Regions from separate parts of the Homo sapiens genome. Here regions 2 and 3 are each linked to region 1. Evidence: fine-mapped expression QTL. A gene starts in region 1. Each other region holds a variant in brackets. All regions are shown on one strand. Distances are from middle to middle.

Region 1 (10,860 bases):
TTACGAACTAGGCCAGTTGCCCTGCGTACCATGATGCATCCTTCTTGCCCAAGAAACAAGGGTCCTGTGGCCATTCCAGACAGGGACTGGGACACAGAACAGGCAGTGACTCGGACCTTTCAAGGCCCGTCAGAGCTGGGTGGGCACTCGAAACCTCTAGCCCACCCTCTCCTTCTCCAAGGAAGGGGACTTGCTTTGTCTCGAGCTTCCTGAGGGTTTGTGGTTCAGCACCAGGAATGTGGACCCGAGTCGGGTCAATGCTGTCCTCTCACCAGGCTGCTCCCACCTTCCCCAACGAGGTGGGCAGTGACAGCACCATCTGTCCCCCCAGCACGGAGCCAGCCCTGAGTCACAGAGGCCCCCCGCCCCTCACAGGCCTCCTGCCATACTCCTGAGCTGACGCCCATTCCAGAAAGTCCAAGGCCAACCTGCAGGAAGAGTCACGGCTTTACTATTGTGTGTGTGTGAACGTGTGTGACTATGTGTGTGTGTGTGTGACTATGTGTGAGTGTGTGTGTGACTGTGTGTGAGTGTGTGTGACTATGTGTGAGTGTGTGTGTGACTGTGAGTGTGTGTGACTATGTGAGTGTGTGTGACTGTGTGACTATGTGTGAGTGTGTGTGTGACTGTGTGAGTGTGTGTGACTATGTGTGGGTGTGTGTGACTATGAGTGTGTGACTATGTGTGAGTGTGACTGTGTGTGTGTGAGACTATGTGTGAGTGTGTGACTGTGTGTGTGTGACTATGTGAGTGTGTGTGACTATGTGAGTGTGTGTGACTGTGTGACTATGTGTGAGTGTGTGACTGTGAGTGTGTGACTGTGTGTGTGTGTGACTATGAGTGTGTGACTATGTGAGTGTGACTGTGTGACTATGTGTGTGTGAGACTGTGTGAATGTGTGTGTGACTATGTGTGAATGTGTGTGACTGTGTGTGAGTGTGTGTGTGACTATGTGTGAGTGTGTTTGTGAGTGTGCGTGTGTGTGGTGTGACCCCACTCCCTCAGGGTGGGAAAGTTCCCTGCCCATAGGCACTACATGCAAATGCACCTTTCTTCTGGGGAATCAATGGGTGGAACAGAAGGGCCCACCATTCCTCCTTGTTCCCTTGGTAACTCTCCTATGGGGCCCCCAGAACCCAGGTTAACCACAGAATACGGGGTCCTTGGGTGGAATGTGCCAAAAGGCTGGTGGGCTGTGCCCATTAGGAGAAGGCCCCCTGACTAAAGTGGGGAGTGGAGGAGACTGAACCAGGTGATGAGCTCGGCCATGTGGGTCCGAGTGCCCACTTCCCTACTAACAGCTGTTTGGCTTGGGACAAATAAGTCCACCCCTTGGGAGCCAAATTTCCTTTTCTTGAACTGGAGTGAAAAATCTCACCAACTTCACATGGTTCTTGTGAAGATTAAGTGAAATAACGGATTCAAAATATGTTATGCAAACGACATATGCAAACCTGCTGTTCCCATGTGGTTCTGAAGGTGACAGCATGGCCTGCTTTAGCCCCAGGAAGGCATTCATGGTGATGAGCACCTGTCCAGCCACTGGCCAGGTACAACCATTCAAGGGCAGAAAAAAGATCTCATCTCGTAAAATCCAAATGGCCATGCATTCCTGGGCCTATGGGCGCTCTCCAAGGTAGCTGCTGGGTGACAGCCCCAGCCCTGTGCACACAGATTATGACATCACTCAGAGACGAGCCTTGTGTCCCGTCTCACCATGCCCATGTGACTTCTCAGTGGAGCCTGTGGTGACAGGGGGCAGGTCTAGTCCTCTCTTCCTGGACCACCCTTGGAAGTCTCAATCCACCTGTGTGTCCACCCACCCATCCACCCATCCGTCCATCCATCCACCCACCCATCCACCCATCCGTCCATCCACCCTTTCACTCATTCACAAATATTTTGAGTGGAGACAAACCAGGAAAGAGTCAAAATGGGGCCTGCAAGCTAGCCAAGCCTTGGTGCTGGTGTGAGCACACAGGCATGTACACACACACACACACACACAAACACACACACATACAAACTCACACACTCTGCGCAGACTCACCTTCTCCAGTAGCTGCCTCAGCTGTTTTGTGCGGGCATCCCGTGAACACATGGTCTGCTGTGGAGCGACCACTGTGCAGATACACCTGCCCTCGCTGTCCTGGGCAGAGCTGTACACCTGCCAGCTCTCCTCAGGGTTGGTGGGCAGCACCTGGAGAGGGGCGGGGCGGGAAGGGAGAGGGAAGGAGAGAAAGGGAGACCATGAGGTTGTGTATCAGAGCCAACAACCAGGGGAAACTGTCCACATCCACCCCCAAGGAAAAGATGGGAGGAAATGGTCCCAAGACATGTTTGACCCAAAGGGAAGAAAGGGTCCCTGGGAACAAAGAGGCACAGGTCTCCTGTTAGGGGGCTCAGGGCTGGAAGGATGTCAAAGAGGCAAGACCCTTTACGTTCTTAAAATTTAAGTTCAACTCAAGGGATGTCTGGAGTTTGTCGTCTGGCCAAATTGATCTGCTGGGTGGATGGGAGGGGCAACTGGAGGCCACAGGCTGGACTAGGAGCAAGGCAGGAAAGCAAACGCTGGGTGGCTTGCAGCGGGCACGTATTTCAGAAACAGGATATCCTTCCCGTAAGTCAAGCACGGGTGGCTGGCACCACCAAGCCTCGCCCTGCCGTTCCCTGACACTTGCAGACGAAGCACCCACTGTAACAGCCCCAGATCCAGCAGCCTATTCGCCCAGAGCTGTGATGAACCCCGAGCTACAGCAACCTCCCAGCCGGCAGCGTGGCACAGACCGACCCGAGAAAACACTAGGTTTCCAGCTCCTTGTGGGCTCCCCCCACGAGCCATTTGGTGGAGGTCGCCAAATTGCTGGTGACATGCTGTGCAGGGGTCACCCCCAACCTCAGTCCTGAGGTTTGCCCAAAGATCACCAAAGAAACCGGAGCTGCCCATGTCTGGTCTAACCTTGCAGCCCAGCCCTGCCAGGTACCGGGGCGGGCACTCCTGAGCCTACACAGCTCCATCCTGCTGCTGGCCCTACTGTCTCTGAGCACGCTCCCCTCCGGTGGCATCAGGTCATCTCTCTGCTATTTTTAGCATGAAGATGGGGAGGAGAAGTTGGGCGGGTAGAATCTATAGTAGTCATATCTTTAATCTCATTCATTCCCAACCCCAGAAGATCGGGACCGGCAGGCCGGAACAAAGTCATCATGGAGGAATCGCCCTCCGATTCCTGAAGGAGCAGGGAGGGCGGCCTCAAGAGGGGTCTTAGGAGGGAGCCACACCACGGAGCCCTCTTCGCAGGGCACTAAACCCCTGGCAGCAAAAAGAGAGAGGGAGGGAGACTCACGTCCTTCACCTCTCCTTTCAGCCTAAAGGGCCAGTGGTCTGGGGCGCGCCTTCCCGGCAGCGGCCCCTTCCCCGCGCGGCCCTCCGGGTGGCGGTTTCAGCTCAGCCTCGCTCAGCCATCTAAGTCAGCTCTGCCCAGAAGCAGCCCCGGCCACGGTTCCCCTCCCGCTAGGCTCGAGAGGGAGACGCGATTTCAATTTCAGAGGCCAGGAGGGAGGGGTGCGCGCAGAAGACGAAGGCAAAGGCGAGGGGGTGAGCGCCCAAGGGCAGGCTCCCAGGGGCCCCACCCAAGCCCCTCGGCACCGTCCTCGGAGGAGAAGGAACAAACCCTCCTATGGACTGGGGAGGAAAGGGCGCCTTGGGACTTTGGGAATGCAGGCGCGGGCAGGAGCTCCGGAGCCCACCGGCTGGGGCCCCACTCCCAGCCCGGTCCGGCCAGTCTGGCTTTTACAAACTAGGGCGGGCTCAGTCCCCGCTGGACCGAGCCCAGACTAGGGTCTAGCGGCGGCTCCACCCCTCACTCGCTGAGTGTGACCTTGGACAAGTCCCCAAGTCCCCAGCCTTAGTTTCCTAACCTTTTCAATGGGGGGCTCATGATTACTGACCCAGGACTCCAAGCCTCCGAGAACCCACCAAGCTCCCCCGGCCCCGCGGCGAGGGGCCCAGACGAAGGAAACGCCGCCCCAGGGGCGCGCGGGCGGAGATGGAGTGGCCCAGGCTGGGGGAGCGGGGAGCAGGGTCGCCACCGCTGCGCCGGCCCGCGACGCCTGCCCTTGCCCGCCCTGCTCCCCGCCGCCTCCCTGGGCGACTCGGGTCCCGCGCGGCGCCCGCCCAGCCCGGGGCTCCGGACCGAGGAGGGGGAGGAGGAGGAGGAGGAGGAGCCGCGCCAAGGCGGCCGGCGGGCGCACTTACGCCGGTGCTGCGGTCCAGCGTCCCGCCGCCGGCCGCCGAGAGCTTGGTGGTGTTGAGGCCCACCAGCGAGGGCAGCGTCTGGGACATCCAGTTAGTGATCATGGCCATGGTGCTCAGCACGACCCCGATCTTGAGCAGCGGCACCGACATCGCGCCTCGAGCTGCCTCCAGCGCCCGCTCCGAGCTGGCACCGGCTCCCGCGCCCAGGCGGCCTTCAGGCGGCGGGCACCGCGGCGGGCAGGGGCGCCTGGCTGTGTCCCCGCGCCCCCTCGGCCCGCCGCCGCCCGCCCGCCGCCGCCGCCGCCCCGCGCGCCCCGGCCATCGCCGCGCCTTCCCCGGGCGCCAGGGAAGGTGGCCAGGTGGCCTCTGCCCGCCGCGCCCTGCGCCTCGCGCCGCCCGCCCTGCGCCCTGCCTTGCCCGGCTGCGTCCCTCCGGGCTCCTCCGCCGCCACCGGGAAGCGCCGTCCGGCTCTGAGCGCTGCGCGGGCTGCGCGCGGGGGCCGCGGCCGGGAGGCGGGGCTCGGCCGGGCGGGACCGACGCAATCCGCCCAGGAAATGGGTGGATTTTTCCTCTCGCTCGGCTCCCCGCCGCCCCCTGGCTGCTGGCAGCGAGGTCTGCAAACTCCAGTCCGCCCAGGAGTTGGGATCAGGGTGACATGAGGAGACGGACACACCACCACCCCCAGATCATAAAATACCCGGCGGCGGCGCGGGGACTCCAGCTGGGGGCACGGCCCGCGGCCCTCCCGTCCCGGGGCTTCTCCCATCCTCACGCCGGGGCATCCCTCTCCGATCCCCGCAGAGGGTCCGCTTTGGGGCAAAGGTTGCCGGCAGAGAGACGGCGCCGTCCTGCCTACTGGAGCCCTTTTCCGCGGTGATTCGAGGGTCCCAGCCAGCCTGGGCCGTCGCCTGAAACCCAGCAGGCAGGGCAGGCTCCGAAAAGCAGCCAGACTCGCGAGGGCCTCCAGCGCCAGGGGGGCGTCGGGGCATCGGTGGAGAGCTAAAGGCGCCCCTGCGATCCCAGGGCAGCCGCGGTGCCCTAAGGCCTTGCTTGGGAGGAAGGGAGCCAACCGGCACTCCTGACACCTGCACAGCAAGGCGGGGGCTGGGGTGGTCTGCCGTGGCCCGCGGTGCGCAGTGAGGGCCCTGGGAGGGCGCACACCCGGCAGGAGCTGCATAAGGTCTGGGGCTCAGGCCTGGACCTCAGGAGCTGAAGGGACCACGCCCATGAACCTGGTGTTGGGGAGGTGGGTGTGTGGGGCGGGGACTGGGGTCTGTGGTGGAGGGGTGTGGGTTGGGGGGTGTCCTTACTGACTCAGGGGTGGCGCTCGAGTCATGGCGCCCAGGCACAGAGGCAGGGCAAGTGGCGCACGCTGCCCCTCTTCCCGGCCCTCTGCGGCGACCGCAGCAGGACTCACGCGTGTCAGTCCCACCTGAAGCGCAGGCCTGACTGGGTCAAACACGTTAATAGGGCTTTTGCATTTACAGAAGGCTTCTAATCGGAGATGAAAGCCACTTCCTCCGGGGCCTTCCATTAAGCTTTCCCAGCCATTTGGGAAGGAAAGAATCCTCCAGATCACTCACTACACTCTTCTCTGCCTGGGCGAAAATTAATCTCCCTTCCTGGATGGGATTTGAAAGACGGACGCCGGGCCGGAAGGAGCGCGCCTCCCTGGCGCCCGCCTGAGAGGAACAACGCCTTCCTGGGGCTTTTCTCTCTGTGTGCGCAGTCCTCGGCTGAAGAGACTTCAGCTGCAGCCAAGATGATCCTGGCCTGAGTGCTGGGTGTGAGACCCGCTAGTTAAATGAGCCCCTCAGATCTGCTTTTCTGATTAATGCTGTAATCTCAGGCAGCCGGGCTGGGTCGGATGCCAGGAAATTCCAACTGTTGGGGAAGGGCGCCATCTCCCAGTGTAAGCTGGGACTGCAGGCCCGGCTCACAGACTGGGCCCAGGCGGAGACACAAGTCCGGTTGGGCTGGCTTCGCCCCCCTCCTCTGGCCATGCATGTTTAACACCGATTCAAGGCCACAAGCCGTGTCTGTCCAGATCACTCACGCCGCTTCCCGCTGCGGAAGGACAAGGACCACTTGTTCTGCGGGAACAAATTCAAATGCAACCCAATCCAATCCACAAAACTGTCAGGCCATCTCAGAAGCCATAGACATTTATTTATTTAACGAAGTAAAAGATTAACCTGCACTTGGACTGCTCTAACCTGCACCTGAGCGGCTCCAACCTGCACCTGAGCGGCTCCAACCTGCACCTGCTCCAAACTGTCCTGTCCAGTTTCTAAAATCTGTGATTCAGTGGGCATAATGGTTTTGAAAGGGTCGTCAGATAAGGCTTGAGTAAGTGTAATTGGATTTAGAAGGCCATGGAGCATTCCAGAAGGAAAGTATGGATCGTTGAAGAATGAAGGCATTTGGATTAGGGGATCCATGGCGCCAGGCAATACCAAGTGTTCCTAAAGAGGACTTTCAATCCCAATTTCTTCACGACTTCTCTTAAAGCCAGGGCTCATCACACCTGCAGCTCTGAACAATCATACGGATGCTGATGGGGCAGGTGCTGCGCCCCTGGTGGCACTGGGGCTTTGCCATGCCTGGCACCCAATCCTTACTGAAGTGCATGGTGTGGTGGCATTGACTCCACTGTATAGATGAGGAATCTCAGGCCTAGAAAGATGATAAGACCTGTCCAAGGTCATATGGTGACAGCCTATTTCCAGGGCTAAGCCCATACACATGGTGGCATCCTCGTCTTATAAATGTCATGGCCATAGTTAAATCTCACGAGCCCCAGAAGTGGCATGAGTTGCATGGCCACAGCAGCCCTGGCTGTCCGCACAGTTCCACGAGCCACAGAGGCCGCCAGAAGACATTTCATGGGCCCTTGCCTTCCACGCTCGTGGGAAGGACAGGAGGTTGCCCACCCCTTTCTGAGTCCTGGCACGAGCCTGCACCACCCTCCCTGTCATGACAGGTTAGAACAGCCACGTCTCTATCCTCATGCCAGCCCCCTACAGGCCTTGACCTTGGTGGACTCTGTACAAATTCATCAACACACATAAAAACAAGCACACCCCCTCTGCATCTCCCGGCTTCAGAGCTCAGAAGACGCAAGTGTGAGAGGGTGCTCCTGCCCAGCTTGCTATAGACCTTACAAGAGGCGGACACACGTGGGCTATTGGGGAATCACCTCGAGAAGCCCTAGGACAGCCACATGGTGAGCTGATAGGGCACAGACGACACCAACACCCACAGTCAGACGACCACTGACACCCACAGTCAGAACAGTGAGGTCCGCAGGATGCAAACCTACTCAGGTCCCAGAGCCAGGAGTGGCTGCTTGGAGGGAAGCAGGTCTCTGGGCCACTTCCCGATGCTCCTTGGCAAAGGATGCCCTCAAGGGACAAAGTTTGGATGCCCGGTTGCTGTTTAAAAATACGCATACTCTCCTCAGGCTATTGGCAAATATCTTGAAGGGAAACAAGGGGAGGGGAGGAAGAAAGGGAGGGAGAAGGGGAGAAGAAGAGAGAGAGAGAGAGACAAAGGCAGAGAGACAGAAAGACAAAGAAACAGAGAGGAGACAGAGAGGAAGACAAAGAAATGGAGAGAGAGACAGAGAGAGAGGAGAGAGAAGAGAGGAGAAACAGAGAGAGGAGAGACAGAGAGAAGAGAGACAGAGAGGAGAGATAATAGAGACAGAGAGGAGAGACAGAAGAGAGACAGAGAGGAGAGATAATAGAGACAGAGAGGAGAGAGAGAAGAGACGGAGAGAGGAGAGACAGAGAGAGAGATGAGAGACAGAGAGAGAAGAGAGAGAGAGAAGAAAGATAGAGTGACACAGAGAGAGAAGAGACACAGAGAGAGGTCCCACATGGAGCCACCTCTCCTTTTTCTACGTTGTATGTAGCTTTTTCATTCCCTTTCTGTGCTGGAACATTCCAGGAGCAAGGAAAGGACCTGGCCTCAAGCCAGGCAGAATGGGAGGAGCCACAGGTCCCCTGGGCACTCCCTCTCGGCAGCCACAGAAGACCAGCATGGGTCTTCTGAGCCAAGTGTTCCCTGTACTCCCCTCCTCTGAGGCCTCTGGGTTCACACATGGGTGGAGGCGTAACTGCTCCTCACCCCCTTCCCTGGAGAGGATTTCCATCCTGGCCCGGCTCCCTGTGCCTGGCAGCACCTCCCATAAGCTGACAGTCTCCCAAACACCACCTGCATCAGGCGTGGCTGTGTGACCTGCGATTTTGGCCCCGGGAGGGAGAACGGCTAAGGGCCACGACTGAGCAGCTTTCAGAGCCAAATGTCTCAGTCACACCCTGTCTCTCTGCCTCTGTCATGAGGAAAACAGATCCAGAGAGGGCCCCTCCCTTGCCCAGGGCCCTCGAATGACAGGACATGTGAGCCAGAGGTGCCCCCAGGCAGCCTGTGCCCTATGCACACCGTTGCCATCATGAGCCACTGTGCTTGGGGTTTGTGAGCACGGCTGGCCTGAGCTGCCGACCCAGGAGATTCAACTTCCTCCGAGGTATCGTCCTTCCCCCTTTCCCTCAGTGTCAGCTCTTCAAGTCCCCCAGTGACAGTGATGGGGAGCTACTTGCCCTGGGGAGAGCATCCCACAGACCCATGGCTGTTGCTGGGGGACGTTTCCTCCATTCAGCAGTTGGCCTCGTGTCCAGCTCTTCAGTCCTAGTTCCTTGTCCATCCAGAGAGCTGACTTGTCCACGGCCCCCATCCCCCCAGACCCTTCATGCACCCTCCGCACTCTCCCTGGCAGGTTCCACGCCTCTTTCATGGATATCGTCTCAGCCTGGCCACAGCCAGGCCAAGGGAAGCCACAGCTCTGTATTCCCTTAGTTGCCGAATGGAAAAGAGGCCAATTCTGGGAGTGGTACTTTGAAGAACAGGGACAAGACAATTCAGCAGACACGTCACCCTCTGGGCTGAATGCACGTTTTTCAGGGACCCCACAAACATAATCATTTCCTACTTCCCAGGTGAGGAAACTCACCGTAACTAATTGGGAAAGGCAGCCCGGTTTCTGTGGAATCAGTCATTGATCCTGACATGAATTCAAAGGTGACATCATGATGAGAAACATCAAAGAGTCAATCCCAGGGTCCAGCTGGGAATGTGGAAAATGCCCCAGGTGGCACCATTTGCTTACAGCCAAGGATTTGGTGCTGCCAGATTCCAAACAAAGTTCTTTGCATCCAGACGACACCCGGCCTCTGCACAGGAGGCTCCCGGGCATTACTGATGGGGCCTGCCCTGTGGAGCCTGGACTTGGCCTCGGAAACGTTCTTAGCCACCTCTCACCAAGACTGCTGCAGCCCCTGGGAGAATCTCCTGTTTCATCATCCTTTGTATTGCTGATGGAACAAAGCACCCCTGGGTCCGTCAACACCCCTCACCTGCTGCCACTCAGAGCTGACTCAGTCTGTGCATCTGTGGGACAAGATGCTGAGGCTGAGTGGCCTGGGAACGGAAACCTGTGTGTGCATATTTGGGGCTGGGAAGGAGGCTGGGCAGGGGTTCAAGGACTCAAGTTGACAGCCAAATTGTTGGTAAATGGCTGGCTCCCCATTTCTGAGTCCCACTGCACTGTCAAAAACCACATCCTTCAGTGCATGGAGTAAAGTTATTTACGATACACTCATGTTCTTTCTTTGACTCTTAGGCCCCCGAAGCATCACCAGAAGCAAGTGGGGGAGACTTTCTTTTCAGCACCACTCAGGAGAGCCATTTTGTATGGTAGGGAAATCCCCGCGGCAGGGTTTAAACTCCCCGAAGACAACTTGTATACCTAAAACCACTAGCTGGAATGGAACCACTTTAGGGACGGCCCAAAGCGATGCTGTGAACTGCTGATCTGAATGTGGACAAGGGCTGGGGAGCCGACCTCATTCCCATCTCCCCCTTACACTCTTTCATCTCAACTTTTCATGGCTACACACTCTCCAATCAGATTTTAACTGTCATTGAACCATGCATAAGGAATATACGGGCAAGATCCCTGCTGCTGGGATGTCCTTTTGGGGCGAGCAGGTCTGCTAACACTGCAGCTGCCATCACCAGCTGGAGCCCAGGCAGGGGCGTGAGCTTTGACACGAGCACAGAAGAAGCAGGGACAGGAAACCTTCTCCAGGTGAGCAGCCACACACGAGGACGGGTCAGTTCGAACGCAGCGGATTCTCTCCATGGCAGCCCCTCCAGCCACCTTGTGCAAAGCATGCCAGGTGCAACAAAGGGGGTCACCGGACCCGCAGGCGTGTCGGGTGCACGTGTCGGGCAGTTTAGAGCCTCACTGAGAGGCCACCTTAGCTCAGGACCTGTAGATCCTATTTCTTACTTCTTGGCCTCGAACTCCTGACCTCAAGTGATCCACCTGCCTCGGCCTCTCAAAGTGCTGGGATCACAGGCATGAGCCAGTGCGCCTGGCCCCTAATTCTGACTTCTTGGATCTCAAGTTGTCATGCACATGCTGAGACATTTAACGGGCACAGGGCTGCCTACGTAACCCCTAACCTTACACTCCAGAGAACTGAGGCAGCTGGGCAGGCACTCCTAGATGCATCCCCGTTTCCAAGGGGTGGACGGGC
Region 2 (10,860 bases), 180 kb after region 1:
CTCCAAGAGAGTCGGAATCAGTTGATAGGGACAAGGGTTTGAACGGTGGTAAGGTGTTTCCCTCACTGATTCAGGAGCAGGTGGTTCTGTGACGCTCAGCAAGAGACTGCTCCTAAGGACGGCCTGGTGCCCCTGGCTGATAACATATTTATGAAGGAAACATAAATAGTAAATTACAGCCTGCTCTAGTGGAAGGAGGACTGGAAACACAGAAAGGAAATACCCCAAAAATGGCAGTGCCATGTCTCCGGTGAGAGCACTGCTCCGTTCCATGGTCTCTAAGAGCGCCCTTAGCAGGGCGTGTAGATTTTGTAATGAACAAAATGAAAAATATTTTTTCAAAGAAGTAAACAACTTTGGTTTGGCTGCAGCTGTGCCACACCTGGCTCTGTGTCCTTGGACCCCACACTGCCCCTCTCCAGAGGACCTAGAAAGCCCCTTCCAGCCCAGTAATTCTACAACCACATTCCCAAGGTCTGGGAGGGAAAATGCTTTGTCAGCCCCAATTCCCCAAGTTTCTTAGAAATATTGATTGTCATTAGTTATTGAAAGTGCCCGCTGTTTATTAAGCTCTTTCTAAATGCCATAAATTACAATAAGAGATTTAAAATGCACATTCTTTAACCAAATCCTGGCCGCAACCTTGTTATTATCCCCGCTTGGCAGCCCAGGGCACAAAGCTCAGAGGAGTTAAGTTACTTGCTGCAGGACACACAGCACTGAGGAGATGGGGCTCCCCTAGGTCGGGGTGGCCTCCAAAGCCAGAGCTCTGCCCCCCATCACATCTCCGCCTCACCAGTGCCTGAGGGGTGAGGACAGACCAAGGCCCCAGCAGAGCAGAAAACCTCACTTCCCAGCCACTGTTGGGCCAGGCACTGAGTGGGCACCTGTGTTTCTCTGCAGAGGTGAAGGTGGTGGGCCTGGAGGGCTCTGACAAGCTCACCATTCTCCGAGGCTGCCCGGGGCTGCCCGGGGCCCCAGGGCCAAAGGGAGAGGCAGGTGTCATTGGAGAGAGAGGTAGGTGCGGGCCGGGTGGGGAGGCCAGGCATGGCAGGGGCACTGGCTCTTGCTCTTTATGAAACTGGATGCAGAGTTGGGCAACACCCCCACCGTGGTTCCTAGATCAAGAGCCTGGGTCAGGCCCCTGCTAGAGCCAGGAACAGAGCTGACTCCCAGGGCCCAACAGGGTTCTGAAATGGAGGGAGGGTCTTTCCTAACTATTTCATGAGCTCACATTTGGACATGCTTCTGTAGCTCTGTCTCCTAGTCCTTGATCCAATACCAGCTTTGCTCAGCTACTGGCACGACTTCTAAGCTCTGTGTCCCTCCACCTTCTCACCTGAAAATTGAGGTGACCGCTTTCTTCTGCACCTGCCTCATATGGGAAAACTGAGACTCAAAGAGGTCACAGGCTTTCCTACTTGACAAACCAGTAAGGAGTGGGGCTGGGACTTGGACTGGTCTACTTCAGGGCACAGAGGGCACCCGAATCCTGAGCCCTGAGCTCTGCATGTGGATTTGCAGGGAACATGGGAGAATGAACAGCAGGCACCTGCCTTGGGTGGTTTTGGGTCCCCCTAAGCATGGCATAAGGCAGACGTGCACAAAAACTCAGAAAGGGCGCTGCCTTAGGGGGTGAGCTCCCCATGCCTGGACGCATTCAAGATGATGCCTGCGGAGCACTTGGTGGGGATGTCCCAGTGTAGATGGGACAAGCTCAAATGTCCCTATGACTTGGACTTTCACTGACGTGTCTAGGCTTCCGTGTGGGTGTCCGGGGCCAGGTCCTCTGTGCCCACTCCGCAGGCTGGACCTGAGAGTGCGGTCCCGATCCCCTGCTGAGGGAACACTGGGGAGGAAGACCTTCCCTGGCAGGAGAAGAATCAAGTCTGGCTCAGACTTCCCTTGAACCAGGCTTCTACCAGTGGGCATGGCTGGCTAATATACCCTAAAGCAAGAACCAGCCCCCATACACTCTCCCCAGCCACTGGGGTCAGCGAGCGGGCTGGGGGCTGCCTCTTGGCTGGCATCGGGGACGGGAGGGTCACCTTTCTGGCCAGAACCACGTGGAGCGCTGTGTGACACCCCAGGAGCTCAGGCGCACGGTGGAACCGGATCCTCCCTGGCAGCAGCGGCTGCACGTGGCGCCCACCCTCTCCGTGTGGGGACGTGGTAGGATGAGGCTCTCTGAGGACGCATTCTTTGTTCCAGAACCTGGTCCCTTGCTAGGCAGTAGAGCTCTGTGTGGGTGACTTGGGTCCAGGCTTATGGTCAACAGAGTGTGAAACCCAGGTTGCTCCCAAGGCACAAACAGGAGCAAGGTGCACCTTGCCTTGAGCCCAAGGTGGGGTGCAGGCCCCTCCCTCAATCCCTCACCTCCATCTGCAGTCACCCCCAGGCTAAATCCATGGCTAGCAATTCTGAGAGCTCCTGGAACCAGAAGGGGTTCAAGGCAGAGTGGGGGAGGGTCAGGACTTAACCACTTGGGGCAAAGATTTCCAGGGAGAATTGTTTAGGTTGCATTTTTCTCAGTGATATGTCTTTGGAATTTTCAGGAGAACGCGGTCTCCCTGGAGCCCCTGGAAAGGCAGGACCAGTGGGGCCCAAAGGTAACCAGGGGACAGACAGCGAGGAGGCCTTGAGCAGGGACCTTGGAGCTGTCTGTAATGAAATGAGGGAGGGAGAGACAGAGACAGAGACACAGACACAGACACAGAGAGACACGGCAACAGAGAGAGAAAGACAGTGGCAGGCGGACAGGGACCCTGGGATATTCCAGGCCTCGGGGCCCCTCCCCACCATTGAGACCTGGGCGTTGTGATGCCTTAGTGAGCCTGCAGGGCTGGGGAGATGCAGTGTCCAGGCCGGGAGCCCACTCTGGACCAGCCTTTCCGTGGCCCACACATCTGGGGTCAAAAGCTCATTATCCTGCCTCTTCCTCCAGGAGACCGAGGAGAGAAGGGGATGCGTGGAGAGAAAGGTGAGCCACCCGTGGGCCCAGGCAGTTGTCTCTGCAGGCTTTGTCCAGGGGAGGGGTCTCAGAGGCCTCAGTCCGCCTGCCCACCGCCCACGTCCCTGTCAATCCAGGCTGTGGGCAGGGAGGGGTGGAAGGAGTCCAGCGGGCTTTGTTGTCAGAATCCACGAGGGCTCAAACCCTGGTGTCTACAGCAGTCACTCCCAGTGGCCAGCAGGACCACATCAGTGCATAGATGGTGACACTTCAATATTTCAATTTCTGTCTTACTTATGCTCATTTATGCAAAAATTGTAAAAGTTTAAAAAAGCCAAATGTGCAAGACTCTAATACACTGTACCACGCTCCACCCACAAACACAAATGAAAACCGGAGCCGGGGGCTGAGGGTCCGCCGATACCTGAGTCCCAAGAAACAGAGGCCAGGGCGGAGGCAGGGCAGGCTTGGAGTGACCCTGCCAGGCTTGAAGAGTTATTCCGCTGTTATCAGTGGCGAAGGCCCCACTAGGGGTCCAGTTCGTCCAGCAGGACCCGCAGCGCCTGCCACAGCCCACCAAGCTCAAGCTGCACAGCAGGGGCCTATGGACAACCATGTGGCTGGTGCCTCTGGGGAAGTCGAGTCTGGCCATCCTTCCCTAGGCCTGTGCCACGTGTCCTGGAGACATCAGAGGAGCTGCCTTTGCCCATTCTCTATTCTGTGCTCAGGGAGCCACTGGGGCTGACCAGGACAAAGGCTCTGATTTCAAGCTTATGACAAGTGTCTCCTCTCCCCACACAGGAGACGCTGGGCAGTCTCAGTCGTGTGCGACAGGTGACTGATCACACCCTGACCTCGGTACCCAAGCCTTGCCCCCACCCCTGGGGCCAGCTGCACACGTTCACGCTACGGAATCTAAGGACAGAACCCTGTCTGCACCTATCATCCCCCCCTCAATCACTCGAGTAATGGGCAGCTATCACCTGAATCCCTTCCATGACAACCTGGGCTCTACTATTATCTACCCTAGAAGGCCGGGTGCCCAGGAGGCAAAGGTGGGGCAGACACTGGGAGGTGGGAGGGTCGGCAGACTGGGTGTGGGCATCACAGCTGCGTGGCCCTGGGGGCCGTGTCCCTGTCCAGGCCTCGGAGTCCTGCTCGGTCCGCACAGAAGCCTGTGGCCCTCCTCCTCCCTCCTGGGCCTCCCTCCCACTGCCCCTGTCCTGCCCAGGGCCCCCGTCCTGCAGCCATTCCCCGGGTTCCCTTCCCAGGCCCACGCAACTGCAAGGACCTGCTAGACCGGGGGTATTTCCTGAGCGGCTGGCACACCATCTACCTGCCCGACTGCCGGCCCCTGACTGTGCTCTGTGACATGGACACGGACGGAGGGGGCTGGACCGTGAGTGTGGGGCTGGGCAGAGGCGGTCAGCCTGGGAGTCCCGGAGGCCAGGCTGCACACCTGGTTGTAGAACACACTCTGGAATTCTCTATTCCCCTGGATGGGGACAATCATAGATGATGGGGGAAGTGACCCGTGGGTAAAAGTCCAGGCCATCGGGGAGGCTGGGAGGGGACCGGTGCTCTCCTGCTGTGTGGCTTGGGGCTTGTTGCCTCTCTTCTCTGAGACCGCATTTCCTCTTTCATCCTGTGGAGTCTGTGAGGAGACCAGATGGGCGTGCGTGTGGCACCGGCCTGTGATGCTCTGCCAACTACAAATGCTGCTCCTCTGGAGGGCGGGTCCCCGGTGCTGTGGGACCTCGGCCTGCCCCGCCTAACTCTGTATCCTGGCTTCTTCACAGGTTTTCCAGCGGAGGATGGATGGCTCTGTGGACTTCTATCGGGACTGGGCCGCATACAAGCAGGGCTTCGGCAGTCAGCTGGGGGAGTTCTGGCTGGGGAATGACAACATCCACGCCCTGACTGCCCAGGGTAGGGCCACTGCCGTGGCTCAGGGGTTGGGGGGCCCTGAGGTGCTCCTGCCCCTTAGGCCTGGGCCATCTGCAACATAAGCACCTCTTGGCCCACAGGGGATTGGGCCCTGAGCACACTCAGGTGGCACTGGGACCTCTAAGGGCTGCGTCCCCTGCCGCAGGCTCTGGCAACATCGGGAAGGGAAACGGTTAGAGCCCTGGGCTGAAGGCCTCTTCAGGTCTTGGTCCTACTGGCATCTTAGATCCTGAGAGTGGGAAGCAGGAGAGAGACCACTGGGGCTTGGGGTAGCCTTCCCCCATCTCCAGCTGTTGATCTGCCTCTGAAGCTGGCATCTTAGTCCCATGGAGAGCCCACGCTCGCCTCCTCCAGCCCACGCCTCAGCAGGCCCCCCACAGCCGCACTCACCTGAGTGAGAGGGCCTCCCCCCAACCCTCTGGGGCAGGGG[AT/T]GAGTTTCACAGCTGGTCCTGAGGCAGTCTGTATAATTGCTGGTCCATTATCCCTGCCCACTGCCCTGTGGCATGATTGAAGGAATCCACTCAGGTGCCTCAAATTCCTGCAAAAGAAACTACAATTAGAGCTTCGCCCACTGCTGTGTTAGTGGCTCACCAACCCTTAGAAGGAGAAGGTACACTTTCAAAATGAAAGAATGCTCCCTTCCACCCAGTGAACTCCAGTGGGGCATGTTCAGTTCTCTGAAATAACGGGAAAGGTGTTTAGAAACAGAAAGCCATCCCTGAGGGCCTGATAGCAACAAGGGATTTTCTGACATTTCCGGTTGATTTTTTTCCTGGATGCCACGTTCAGACATCCCTTAAGAATATATCCATCCCCAGCCGGGCACCGTGGCTCACACCTGTAATCCCAGCATTTTGGGAGGCTGAGGCTGGTGGATCATGAGGTGAAGAGATCGAGACCATCCTGACCAACATGGTGAAACCCCATCTCTACTAAAAATACAAAAAAAAAAAAAAGTAGCTGTGTGTGGTGGCACACACCTGTAATCCCAGCTACTGGGGAGGCTGAGGCAGGAGAATTGCTTGAACCCAGGAGGCGGAGGTTGCAGTGAGCTGAGATGGTGCCATTGCACTCCAGCCTGGGCAACAAGAGCGGAACTCTGTCTCAAAAAAAAAAAAAAAAAAATTACCCATCCCCAGCCCTCATGCCTGGTGACAGAAAGATCTTAAAGGCTGGGGCCTTAAAATCTTTTTCCAACAGGAAGCAGCGAGCTCCGTGTAGACCTGGTGGACTTTGAGGGCAACCACCAGTTTGCTAAGTACAAATCATTCAAGGTGGCTGACGAGGCAGAGAAGTACAAGCTGGTACTGGGAGCCTTTGTCGGGGGCAGTGCGGGTGAGTGTCTGCTTGGGGCTGGTGGCCTGAGTGGGGCTTGGAAAGCAGAGAGAACCTGGCTCTGTCTCCCCTGGTGACCTTGGGCCCTCCTCTCTCTGAATCCCATTTCTCCATCTATGAAGCAGACACTAGCATTTGTGTCTCTGTACAGCGTGGGGCTCACAGGACATAGCGGCTGGTATTCCTAAGGCTATGTCTGCCGCACAGTGAGCTGCCTGGGCAGGGCTGAGACGACCCACCAGCATCACTGCTGAAACCTGGAAGACGTCGTCCTTTTCTCATGGGTGCCTTGGAGCTGTTTCCCAAACTGTGCTCCATGGAACACCAGCCTTGTGGGACATTCTTTACCAAAAGGAGTCTCTGGCTACACGATCTGGGGAGGCATTTCCTACAGGGCGTCTGCTTAGGGAATTCCCAGTGCACATCGTTCGTGAAAGGCACTGAGAATTGCTGCAGCTGGAAGTCTGTGTAACTAACTGCTCCATGGAGCAAGGCAGTCCCAGGGGAGCCTTGGAAATGACAGCCTTGGAGTCTGTGCAGTCCTTTCACAGGCACGATCTCACGCATGACCTCCAAGGAAGGCAGCAGGGCAGGGAAGGTCACCCCCATTTTGCAGGTGGTAAAACCGAGGCTCAGGGGGTGACATTTCTCAGCTATAGGAGCCAGGGATGAGCTTCCGGCTCAGGGCTTGAGATAGAGGAGAAGCCCCCAGGTGAGGGCTGTCCTGAACCTACCAAGGGCCACCAGGGGACGTGGGGAGAGACCGGAAGGAGCGGCGCAGGCTGGAGGAGGGAGGTCATTCCAGGAGAGAGCAGGAGGCCTGACAGTTTGCGGGAGCCCTGGAGGAAACAGGTGGTTGCTGGAGCAGGGGCCTCAGGTTGTGGAGAGAGATTTCCAGACCAGGTTGCCAGAGGTTGCCTCCTGCTTCCCCTTCCTCCAAGGCCTGGGTGGGTCATTTGTGCACCTGTAGCTCGGCTCATGCGTCGCTAAAGTGAGGTTGGCTCTGCTCAGAGGCAGGATGTGGTGAGGGTCTCACAGTGGCAGGGCTTTTTCCAGCATCTGCAAACCCCACATTTTCTGTGAGCAGGTAATTCTCTAACGGGCCACAACAACAACTTCTTCTCCACCAAAGACCAAGACAATGATGTGAGTTCTTCGAATTGTGCTGAGAAGTTCCAAGGAGCCTGGTGGTACGCCGACTGTCATGCTTCAAACCTCAATGGTCTCTACCTCATGGGACCCCATGAGAGCTATGCCAATGGTATCAACTGGAGTGCGGCGAAGGGGTACAAATATAGCTACAAGGTGTCAGAGATGAAGGTGCGGCCCGCCTAGACGGGCCAGGACCCCTCCACATGCACCTGCTAGTGGGGAGGCCACACCCACAAGCGCTGCGTCGTGGAAGTCACCCCATTTCCCCAGCCAGACACACTCCCATGACGCCCACAGCTGCCCCTTTGCCCCCAGCTCAGTCAAGCCGCCACATGCCCACAACCTCACCAGAGGGAGAATTATGTTTCTAAATATGTTTACTTTGGGACAGAAAAGTTTTACCAGTTTCAATGTGTGTTTCTTGAACACCAGTGGTTTTGATCACTTTCCTGTGTCTGTTGCACGGCAGGTCTTTCCCTGGAATTTGGTAAGTCGGGAAGAGTCAGGACCCTTATTTAGCAGATGGCACTACCGATGTTCAGGGAGGTTGAGTGACTTTTGCGAGGATTTTCCACCTCCAGTAATTGACACAGGGCGATCCTCACCTCCACCCCCAAGCCTCCCCCATCCCCCCATGCCTCACTCACAACACTTCACACTTCTTGAAAAAGGTCACTTTGGGGTCCAGAAAACACTTACTAAAAAGGGGGAAAGTTTAGTAGGAACTTTTCTGCTTCCCACCACGGCAGAGTTCATGCTTTGGGCTGGCTGGCTGCTGGGAAGAGATAAACACTTAGCACTCACTAAGTGAGCGCCTGGTCAGCCACCTGCACAGAGAAGATTCCGAAGAGGCCTTCCTCCCACACACAGACCTCAGCTAGAGGGGACCGCGGACCTCAGTGGGAAAAGCTGCACAAGGCTTCTAGGAGATGATGGAGAAGGGGCTTCTCCAGCTCCCAGGCCAGGGGAGATTTCTCAACCACGACCTAAGAAGCATCAAAGGGAATGTGGCAAGTGTGACTCCATTCAAATCAAGAGCTCCCACTTACCGAAGGACACTAAGGGAACCAAAGGAAGGCCAGAGGGGCAGAATCAACGTGCGGCACACAAATCTTTAGTTTTCTACTATTGCCGCAACCAGTCACCACAAATGGAGTGGCTTGAAACAACAAGAACTCGCCACCTCCTGGCTCAGTAGATCTGGAGTCCCTGGGCCTTACTGGGCCAGCAGGCAGGACTCAGCAGTGGTGGCTCCTTCCAGGGTTCTAGGGGAGAACCTGCTTCCTTGCCTTTTCCAGCCCCAGGGGTCACTGGCATTCATTGGCCCGGACTCCTTCCCCCAACCCCAAAGCCAGCAGCACCACATCTCTCTGACCCTTCATCCGTTGTCCCCTCTCCCCCCAAGCCCCATGGGACAGGGTCTCCACTCCTGAGACTCATGGGATTAGACTAGGCCTACCTGGATGATCTGGGATCCTCTCCCATGTCCAGGTCTCTATCCCTAACCACATCAGCAAAGTCTCTTTTGCCATGGAAGGTATTTGCAGGCTCTGACTTTGTGTGTATTAGGGCAGGACATTTTTGGCGGGGCAGTGGTGGGGGCAGGGAATTATTCTGCCTACCATGCCTTATACAAAAATAAATAAATCACAGGCTTATACCTGAAAGAATTCCTGCAAATAATAAAAGAATTAGAGCAGCTCAGTTAAATAAAAAAAGGTATGAGATGTGAACAGACACTTCACAGAAGATGACATGCAGGGGAGCAAGGTATTTATCAAAAAGTGCTCCACTTTTCACTTACCAGAGAAATGCAAATCAGCACCCAAAGGAGTCACTGCGGCACCCTCATCTGAGCCTCAGAAGTTAGAAAGATGGATAGCACCAGTGTCAAAGGTGACTGTGGGAGGGAGATTTGCATACACTGCTAGTAACAATGCGAATTGATGGAACCAACCTGGAAAATGGCTTGGCATCAACTGTTGGAGAAGAAGACACACAGTCCTCTAACCTGCCAGTCCCACATCAGGGCCTGGATATGGCCGTCATGTGTACCAGGGAGCATGGCCAGGAATCTTTACAGCCAAATACTCACCATAGCACCAAACTGGAATCAGCCGACATACCCATCAGGAAGAGAATGGATGTTAAAAAATGCAAGGATAGCCATTGGGTAGAACGCCATACAGCCATGACAATTACACAGTGACACCTACACACAAGGAGCATGAGTCTCACAAACATGGCAGCAAAAGGAGCCTGTTCAAGAGGGTATGTGCTATGGATTCCATTGTAGATAAAGTTTTTCAAAAGCAAAAGTAGCCAATGGTATTTTGGATGCATATTTAGGTGGTAAATGTATACAGGAAAAATAAGAAAGTGATTGTATTTGAGGGTGGGACCACATGGTGACTGGGAAGGGACAGGGACAAGCCTCTGGGGTTCTGGCAATGCTCTGTTTCTTGACCCAGGTGGTGATTGTAAGGATGTTTGTTAACTAGTGATGAAAATAATTAAGCTGTACTTTTGCTTTATACACTTTTGAGTACATGTTATGTTCCACAATTTAAAAACTACTTATAAAGAAACTGCACATGCTTGGATCCAGGAACATGAGCTACAGGCACATCCTCCACTGATGCCCAGTGTTCTTGACTCAATACCTGTAAGGAGAGGTCCTTGTAGCCCATTGGGGGCTGACCAGACCCTACTACGCCCCTGCCACAATCTCTAGTCCATCACAAAATCCACTATTGGGATAGTACTTTCGTCCCTCAGTAGGTAAGCATTTTTACAACCTAGGAAGACTTAGCTTTAAGTCTAGAAATGATTAGTATAAATATAAAATATAAATATGATTAATATAAATATAAAATAGCCATAGAAATATGCCTTTTAGTTTGTTTTTTGAGACAGAGTTTTACTCTGCCACCCAGGCTGGAGTGCAGTGGCGTGATCTCAGCTCACTGCAATCTCCACCTCCCAGGTTCAAGAGATTCTCATGCTTCAGCCTCCCAAGTAGCTGGGATCACAGGCACACACAACCATGCCCAGCAATTTTTTTGTATTTTTAGTAGAGATGGGGTTTCGCCGTGTTGGCCAGGCTGGTCTTGAACTCCCGACCTCAAGTGATCCACCCGCCTCTGCCTCCCAAATTGCTGAGATTACAGGCGTGAGACACTGTGCCTGGCCAAAATATGCCTTTTGTATTAAGGAATCTGGACAGGTTTGATTTTTCACAGTCTTGTAATGTTTAAATAATTTGGCCTATTATGAAGAATCTCACAAATCCAATATAAAATGTGGAACTAACTAATCAAAATCATCTTGTAATATTACATGGAAATCTTAGTGCGTTTATACACGGTATTGGCATATTTAAGAGACTTTGAGCTCATTGCATTTCTAAGTTAAATTATTAGATTTCTTAAGATTTAAGTTAAATTATTAGATTTTTAAAGATTAATTAGTGCTAA
Region 3 (7,853 bases), 280 kb after region 1:
GCGGTGGAAGGCGTCTTCCAATTTAATGGCCTGATTGATGTCAGAAAGAAAGCTCTGGAAACGGTGCACAGGGGGCTCAAGTGCATGGATGTACACTCTGTCTTCCCTCTTGTCCAGGGGAACTGGGAGAGGTGCTTTTGCAGTCAGGCAAATGCTGTCCCACCCAGCATGCAGGCACACACACATGCACCGATGTGCACACAGGAGCTCACACACACAGGCACACACACACACACGACTGGGTCCATGACGCTCATGGAGTCTGGGCTCCAAAACCAATCAGATCAAATGGAGAGGACCCATTTGAGAAAATAATTCGGCTGAAATGGAAACTGCAAGCTTAGAAACACCAGTTATTTAAGGAATAGATGATCTCCACCAGAGCTGAGTCTTGGAGGAGGCAGGGGCTTTGCTGGTGGGGCATCGTCTGGAAATTCTGCAAAAGGCTGTCACAAATGGACAGTCAGAGTTCCCAGTTCCATTTCACAAGCATCTGCCTACATTTCAAAATGCCCTTCATAGGAATAAACCAGCCATGCCCACAGAAATGAGTACTTCTCATCTCTGTGTACACACAGAGAGGTACACACACGTGTATGCACCCCCACAAGCGTGTGCATGCGCACATACACATACACACAGACACACACACACAGACACACACACACACTCCTCAAACAACCGCAAATCTGCCACCAGAGCAGGCACGAGCCTCACCTTCTCTCCCACTGCACCAGGGTTTCCTATTCCACCTGGGGGACCTTGTGGGCCATCAGCACCTGGAGCTCCGGAGGGTCCTCGGGGGCCAGGGGGACCCGGGGGGCCCTAGGAAAAGGGAGAGACCACTGAGCCCAGAGGAAACGCAAATGTTTCCCCAAAACATGAGCCGCTAGTACGGCAAGGCCTTGGAGTCTCAGGCACACTTACCATCTGGCCCACGTCTCCTGTCTCACCCTTCTCGCCTGGAGGTCCTGGCAAACCCTGAGAACAGGAAACTTCCCAGTTAAGCGCTGTTCTGTCATGTGTATGTCAAACACACACACAGCTTTCACGACCTCCACCCACACAGCACCACTGAGCCCCCGAAGCCCCGGGAAGGTGCTTCTCTGTGCATAGCTACCCACGAGGACGTCCCGGGGTTCCCAGTCTCAGAATCGGCCCGAGGAAATAAGCAGAGAAGATTGCAAAGATTTACGACAAAGGTGATTATGGCAGGAACCCATAAAACAATAAAGCCTAAGGAGCCAGCAGGGGACGCCTGGGTAAATTATGTCACCACCAGATGCTGGCTTACTGTGCAGTGACTAAAAATCATGTTTTCCAAATAAATAGAAAGTCATGTGTAATGGCATTCAACACACTCGTAACATAAAACGGGAATGGAGGATGGAAAATGGGGAAAGCTGGGAACAAACTTTCTCTCTGACTTATGACATGATTCATTGTCAAACACCAAATACAATTACATATGCGCCTCTGTGCATGAGAATACACACATTTAAAAGGCATGGCCATGAAACATGCCCAAATGTTTATCGTTGTCATCTCTAGGAGGTGCATTTAGAAGTCACTGTTACTATGTTTCTCACGAATCATCAGTTTCCACAATGAGCACAGAAATAAATGCCACTGCTGAAGTGTGGTAAATGCGGGCATGTCTGGAATTCTGGGAAGCTACAGCACTTCCAGTTGGAATGAGGAGGCCCAGGAGGCCCCCTGCAGCCTGGCTTTAGTTTTCCATTCTTAAAAAGACAAGAGGAGAGAGCACAATGAAGACACAGGGGGCGTCAGAAGCGGAGGAGCCCGGTGTGGTGAGAACCCCACAGTTACCTGCAGCCCCACTGGCCCAGGGGGTCCAGGAAAGCCTCTGGGACCTTCATCACCTTTCTGCCCGAAAAGGCCCTGCTGGCCCCGAGGCCCCGGCTCGCCGTCAGCTCCCTGCAGGGAAATAACCGGCCATGGGTGAGGATGCTGGCAATGCCAGCAGCTCTGGGGGGGCGTGGGGCTTTTCGAAGGTCATTGACCATGGATACTCACAGAGGGGCCTGGCTGTCCGATGGGGCCTTGAGGACCTGTAGGCCCAGGAGGACCCTGCGGGGAACAAGACAGAGACATAGGTAGCTTCTTGGATCGTGGATAAGGCTGAGGGAGGGGTGGACCGCATCCTGAGCCCGGGGACTGATGCATCCAACGTCGTCAGTTCAGTCTCCAAATGTGTCGTTCCTTGCACCACGATGCAAGCCTGCTGCAGGCTCTGGGAAGCAGATGAGGATCTTGGTTCCACCCTGAGCCCATTTCTGGATGGCAAAGAGCTGCCCCCAATGTCTCTCGAGACCACCGTGTGTCATCTCAGCTCCCATCATGCACCCACAACAGGGGCACGTGAGGCCCCCTTCAACAGTGAGGGTCCAGGATCACAAGCTCCTCTGGAGCCCTTGCGCCCAGCACCATGTCCCCTGCTGTGCCATCCTCAAGAGACCTCCCGCATGGGACCATGGGAAGGAGGCAAGCAAGGAGGGTACAGTGCCCTTGGCCCTGGTAGCCCAACCCACGGCTGGAAGAAGGACACAGCCTCTGTGGCAGGCCTCCCAGGAGCACGGATCCTGCTTGCCTAGGAATCAACATACTGGGGGAAAGGCCTGGCTGTACAGGATAAGAAGACATGTCACTCATCGGGAGGGAGCTGGTAGCAGAGTCATGGGGTTTTTGCAAGAACCCACTAGGATTTCTGAACAGATGAAAAAACCAAAAGGGGAAAAATGAACAGGCATTTGGTCAATGGTGCTGTCTCTGCCGGAGCATTCTGGTTCCCTCACCTCAGAGGGCAATGGGTGTGTCTGCAGAACCCAAGCCCTCTAGGACAGAAACACTCCATTTATTTAATTTCGCAAAACCGGTGGATGCTTCCTGTTCATTCTAACACAGAGAGACTCACTCCCAGATATGCACGCGTGTGCACACACACACGTTGTGGGAACACACATGCACGGGAGATTTTCACAGCATGTCCCGCTAGTCATCAGCAACGTTGGAAGAGAACGTGCATGGCACACGGCCTACAGCCTGCGACGAGGC[C/G]CCCCGGGACCTGGGGGCTGCCGCGCGCCCCCGTGCCAATACTTACCTGTTCTCCTTTGTCCCCCTTGCTTCCTTTCTGCCCCGGCTCCCCGATCTCTCCCTAGGGGAAGGTGTGGGGGATTCGGTTAGAAAGCTTGACAACCGTTTGGACCTTTTCTGTTCCCCGTAATGAATTTTTCTTGGAGATTAAGAACAGTGTCCTTTCCAGGTGGCCCTAAAACTTTCCTACGAATAAATGTTTCCATATATTAGCTTGATTTCCTTTTTAATACAAGGGCTAAAAGGGACGAGGTCTCGATCTGATGCTCGACAGGCTTTTAGTAGACTTGAAGATGTGGGAAAAGTCATATTGAAAATATTTACTCTGTTTTTCAAATTGGGCCACTACCATGACAACCTAACAACAGGCAACTCAATTACTATGTTGCCGAAGAAGTTATTAAAATCCTCTCTGTTGTTCCTGTCGGTGCAAGGCTGTCTCCCGCCCGGAGATGTAAGGCATTATCCATGCAGAGGTGACAAAGTCAGAAATGTCCCCAGAGAGGGGTCATCAATAGAAAGTTACAGCACAGCGAAATTTCACTGTCTGCGTTAAATGAAGGATAAAATGCAAGCTCCTGCAGCCATCGTTTTGGAATTATAAAGCACATTCTTAATGAACGGGAGCCTGGATAATTCAAGCGGAGACATTTAAAAATAGATACTGAGCAAAACCTCATTAAACCGGGCTCCGCAGTTTCGGAATTTGAAATTATTCGGGGGGACCGGGGAGCATTTTTCTCTGCTGTGGCTACTCACAGCAAATGTTGCAGGCAACCTCAAAATGACACAGGAGGGTGTGGTTTCTAAGTCCCTCGAGCGTGCCGGGGACGGCGTGTATTACCATTTACCAGTGGGCTGCTGTGAAATCATCCCCTAATGCCAGGACTGCGGGGTGGGTGTGGCATCACTCCGCTGGCTGAGCCGCTCTACCTGCCAGCATCCTGTCCTTTAAATTCACCACCCTCCCCCACACCCGTCTGCCCAGCCAGGCCCAGCCATGGGTCACTCTGGATTTGCCTTACCTTATCTCCGTCTTCTCCAGGGGGACCCACAGGGCCAGCTGGACCCGGGAGCCCCACAGGCCCCTGGAGACCGTCTCGGCCAGCTGGGCCTTGTGGGCCTTTCTCGCCCTAGAGAATACAGAAGATCTCAGGTCAAACGTGGCTCCAACCTGGGAACATCCCCCCACCAGCTCATTACCCAAGAGAGGGATCCGCTGGCAGGAAGTGGGAGTTGGTGAGGGTGACCGTCCCCACAGTCCTAATGGATTTCAGCCAGGGCCACTGAGGGCCGACTCTGAGCCCGCCCCTGGACCATGAACTTCTGGTGCATCGCTTCAATTAATCCACACTCATCCTAGGAAAGGCTGCTCTTTTACAGATGGGGAAACTGAGGCACAGTTAGTGAGCAGTAGAGACAGGATCCAAATCCAGCCGGCCAAATTCTTGAGCCTGTATGTGGATTGTCTAAGCTAGTGACCGGGAGCCAAGCCCAGTCACCAGGATAGCCTGAGCTCCAGCTTTCACCAGCTTTCTGATTCTTTACATTCTCTGCAGACACTCTCCCTGCACACACACACAAGGACATGCATGCTCACACATGAAGACATGTACGCACACACATGTGCATACATGCACACATGTGAACACGCCTATGTACACAGGTATGCATGCATGCACATGCATGTGCACAAAACAAGCATACTCGCATGTGCACACGTGTGAATATGCACCAACATGTGCACACGTGTGAATATGCACCAACATGTACACACAAGGACATATAAAGAAGCACACTGACATGTATGTGCATGCATACATGAGTATGCACGCACAGGTACACACACAGGACATGCTTGCAGGCATACGCACACACTATTTTTCCTGTCCTTGTAACTTTGATTCATTTTCCTCCTAACTGCCTGCTTGGTAATCTCAAATGATCCTTCTTAAGTTCTTGCTTTGCTCAGTTTGACCAGCCATCGCATCACTCTGTGAGCAGCCTATATTTTCTCACTGCAGACAGGGATCCCTATCTTCCGACAGATACACAGAAGGAGGGTGTGCACATTGGGAAGGGAAACATGGAATAGAGAATGTACATTCAATGTTCTGGTCTAAATGTAGCCGGGATTTAGTCATCCATCACTATTTCGTCTTACCATTCCTCCCTCCACAATTCATGTCCTGCTCCTCAAACTGAGCTCCTATTCATAGAAATGTCTACCCTACTTAAGCCAGAGAATGCAAAGACCACGTGTGGGGCTTTTGTGGAAGCTTCCTGTCCTACATTCCTGGTCAGGTCGGGAGTTCTCAGAGACGTCCAACCTTTGCTTGGCCTTTCCTTCCCTCTGGAGCTATTCTGGGAGGATGACGAGCTTCTGCCTGGATAGAGCAACTCTTGCAAGGTTTCTGCTCAAATATTTACTCTCTTGAAACTGTGAACCAAGCCATTTCCAGCTGACTTTGTGTGCACTCTATACACTGACTGCCCAGTTGGCTTCAGTTTTCTGGCACAGAATCCAGCTGGATCCATGTCCTGGGTGCCTCACTGGAAATGATTAGAAGACACCAAAATTGCCAATAATGTATTGAACAGATTCTCAATGGCCCAGATGTTTCCAATGTGGTTTCCAGGGAAGTTCCTGCCCAGGGAATGTAGGCTGTTCCTGCCACCCATGAGCCACTGAGAGTGAAACGTACAAGAAAATCACAGTTTCTGGCTGGGCGCAGTGGCTCACGCCTGTAATCCCAGCACCTTGGGAGGCTGAGGCGGGTAGATCACTTGAGGTCAGGAGTTCGAGACCAGCCTGGCCAACATGGCGAAACCCCATCTCTACTAAAAGTACAAAAGTAGCCGGGTGTGGTAGCACACATCTGTAATCCCAGCTACTGGGGAGGCTGAGGCAGGAGAATTGCTTGAACCCAGGAGGTGGAGGTCACAGTGAGCCGAGATTGCGCCACTGCACTCCAGCCTGGGTGACACAGCAAGACTCCATCTCAAAAAAAGAGAAAGAAAACAGCTTTCTAACAATCAGCACTCAGACCTAACTCAATTTGAGATGGTCTGCACCGATTATCTGCCAATTCCCCTGGAGAACTCAAGCTCATTCTGACCCTCTGTACTGGGAAGGAGAAGTTGAGATTAAATTGGTCTCCAGAGCTGATTGAATGCAGAGGTAGGGGACACTGCAAAATTGTGTGGCAGAAGCCAAATACGGGTCAGGGTGGACCACTTCTGGACGGTAAGTGGCATTTTGTGGGTTATTCACGAAAGCAGGCTAGCAGGAAGCATCTAGGCAAAAAGGGCGCTCGCTCATCTCCTTCTTGGAGACCAAGATCTGGGTGGCCTCAAGACATGCTCCTCCCCACTCCCGAGGCTTCACAAAGCCTGCAAAATTCGGGGCTTACCAGCAGGTGGGCTTTCCTGGACACAGAGGGAGGCGCCTTGTCTTTCCGTTATCCACCCATCCCCTGCCCCTTCTTTGCTGGACATCTGCTCTCTACACCTGCCCCCCAACCAAGAAACAGGACTCCCCGGTTCCAAACATCCTTTCCTAGGAAGAGCCCAGCCATGGGTCTGGGCCAGCAGCAGGGAACAGTTCACACAGTGGGCAGCTGTGGCCCGACCACACAGGTGGCACTGAGGCTGGACGGAGACCAAGTCCACAGCGCACTGACTGTCTTCGGCCCCTTCCTCTGTCCACGCATGTGGGGAACACCAGCATGCACGCGTGGACAGGCTGAGACCGGCCCAACATCATCCCACAGGGCTCCTCTGGCTCAGCTGATGGCGGAAAGAATGTGGCCGGCACCAGGACTCCTCCTGTGCTCCTCAGGCAGGTCACCAGGTTCCCATGGGACACACGCTCTGTCCTAGAGGGCCGCAGACCCCACCCCATCCCCAATCCCAAGGAAATACCCCTGGGGACATCACAGGGGGAGGGACAAGGCCAGACACGGAACGACCCCAGCATCTCTGAGGGAAGGGCTCCCCCAATCCAAGGCAGTACTTACAGGAGCCCCTTTCTCTCCTGCCGGCCCTGGGGGTCCCTGGGGCCCAGGTCTCCCTGGAATTCCGATGGGCCCAGCGGCTCCAGCTGGACCTCTCTCCCCTGGAGATCCCTGAGGTGGAGCAAGAAAACAGTCTGCTTCAAAGGCTCTCAGACTGCGTGGTCGTGACTTTGTAAAGCACCAGCTGATCACTCCACTTACCTGCTCACTCTAGAGCCCACAGTGGCTCCCTATGGCCCTTTGCAAGCACAGACTACCTGGTCTAGCGTTCGGGGCTCTGTGTCTTCCTGTAACTCCAAGCTCCCAGGTGCTCCTCCCCCTGGTGTCTGACAGTGTGCCCTGTGGTGTGCTTGCCTTCAATGGGCTCCCTCTTCTAGAAGCCTGGCACCCCCTCCCCTTGAGGGTCTGCCCACGGGGCACCCTCTCTCCTCCAGGGCCCACATGTCTGTGAGGCACCCCCTTCCCTCTAGAGCCCACGGGGCACCCCCTCTCCTCCAGGGCCCACATGCCTGCAGGGCAACCCCTCCCCTCCAGGGCCCCCATGCCCATGGGGCACCCACTCCCCTCTCTGCTGTGCTCCTCCATGGGGTGCGTTTTCTAGGGGATGCCTTGCCTGGGGGCTGGCATATGGATGGGTGGGTACCTGGCCTAATCGTGAGGGCCATCCTGCCCAGTGGGCCCCCGCCGTGGGCAGCCTGGCTTTAGCGTGCATCTTCAGAGTCC

Direction of the effects. Alleles are on the strand shown, and positions count from the first base shown. SD is a standard deviation of normalised expression in the study named. Not every link is listed here.
As copies of T replace AT in region 2, the expression in monocytes of the gene that starts at base 4,727 in region 1 goes down (large effect, 0.77 SD a copy in CEDAR).

What was found. PIP is the estimated chance that this variant, and not a neighbour inherited with it, causes the effect.
Region 2: its variant is the best candidate, but not a certain one, in a credible set for the expression of OLFM1 in monocytes (CEDAR, PIP 0.61).
Region 3: its variant is the best candidate, but not a certain one, in a credible set for the expression of OLFM1 in esophagus mucosa (GTEx, PIP 0.82).

Annotation. Positions count from the first base shown.
Region 1 is chr9:135,081,535-135,092,394 of GRCh38, reverse strand. It overlaps OLFM1 (olfactomedin 1), which reads right to left and starts at 4,727. Exons shown (of 6, transcript NM_001282611.2): 1 at 4,256-4,727; 2 at 2,051-2,200. The coding sequence starts at 4,405. RefSeq lists a silencer at 285-442 and enhancers at 2,463-3,266, 3,267-4,071, 4,706-5,566, 5,567-6,427.
Region 2 is chr9:134,906,505-134,917,364 of GRCh38, reverse strand. FCN1 (ficolin 1) reads left to right here. Exons shown (of 9, transcript NM_002003.5): 2 at 904-1,017; 3 at 2,556-2,609; 4 at 2,945-2,980; 5 at 3,752-3,784; 6 at 4,222-4,349; 7 at 4,750-4,879; 8 at 6,098-6,232; 9 at 7,320-10,860. The coding sequence ends at 7,567. Among named protein-coding and RNA genes, the nearest start is that of FCN1, 6.0 kb to the left of the region's middle. The variant AT/T (reference allele first, on the strand shown) is at 5,328.
Region 3 is chr9:134,805,577-134,813,429 of GRCh38, reverse strand. It overlaps COL5A1 (collagen type V alpha 1 chain), which reads right to left. Exons shown (of 66, transcript NM_000093.5): 42 at 7,134-7,241; 43 at 4,140-4,247; 44 at 3,122-3,175; 45 at 2,038-2,091; 46 at 1,831-1,938; 47 at 928-981; 48 at 718-825. Among named protein-coding and RNA genes, the nearest start is that of MIR3689C, 40 kb to the left of the region's middle. The variant C/G (reference allele first, on the strand shown) is at 3,076.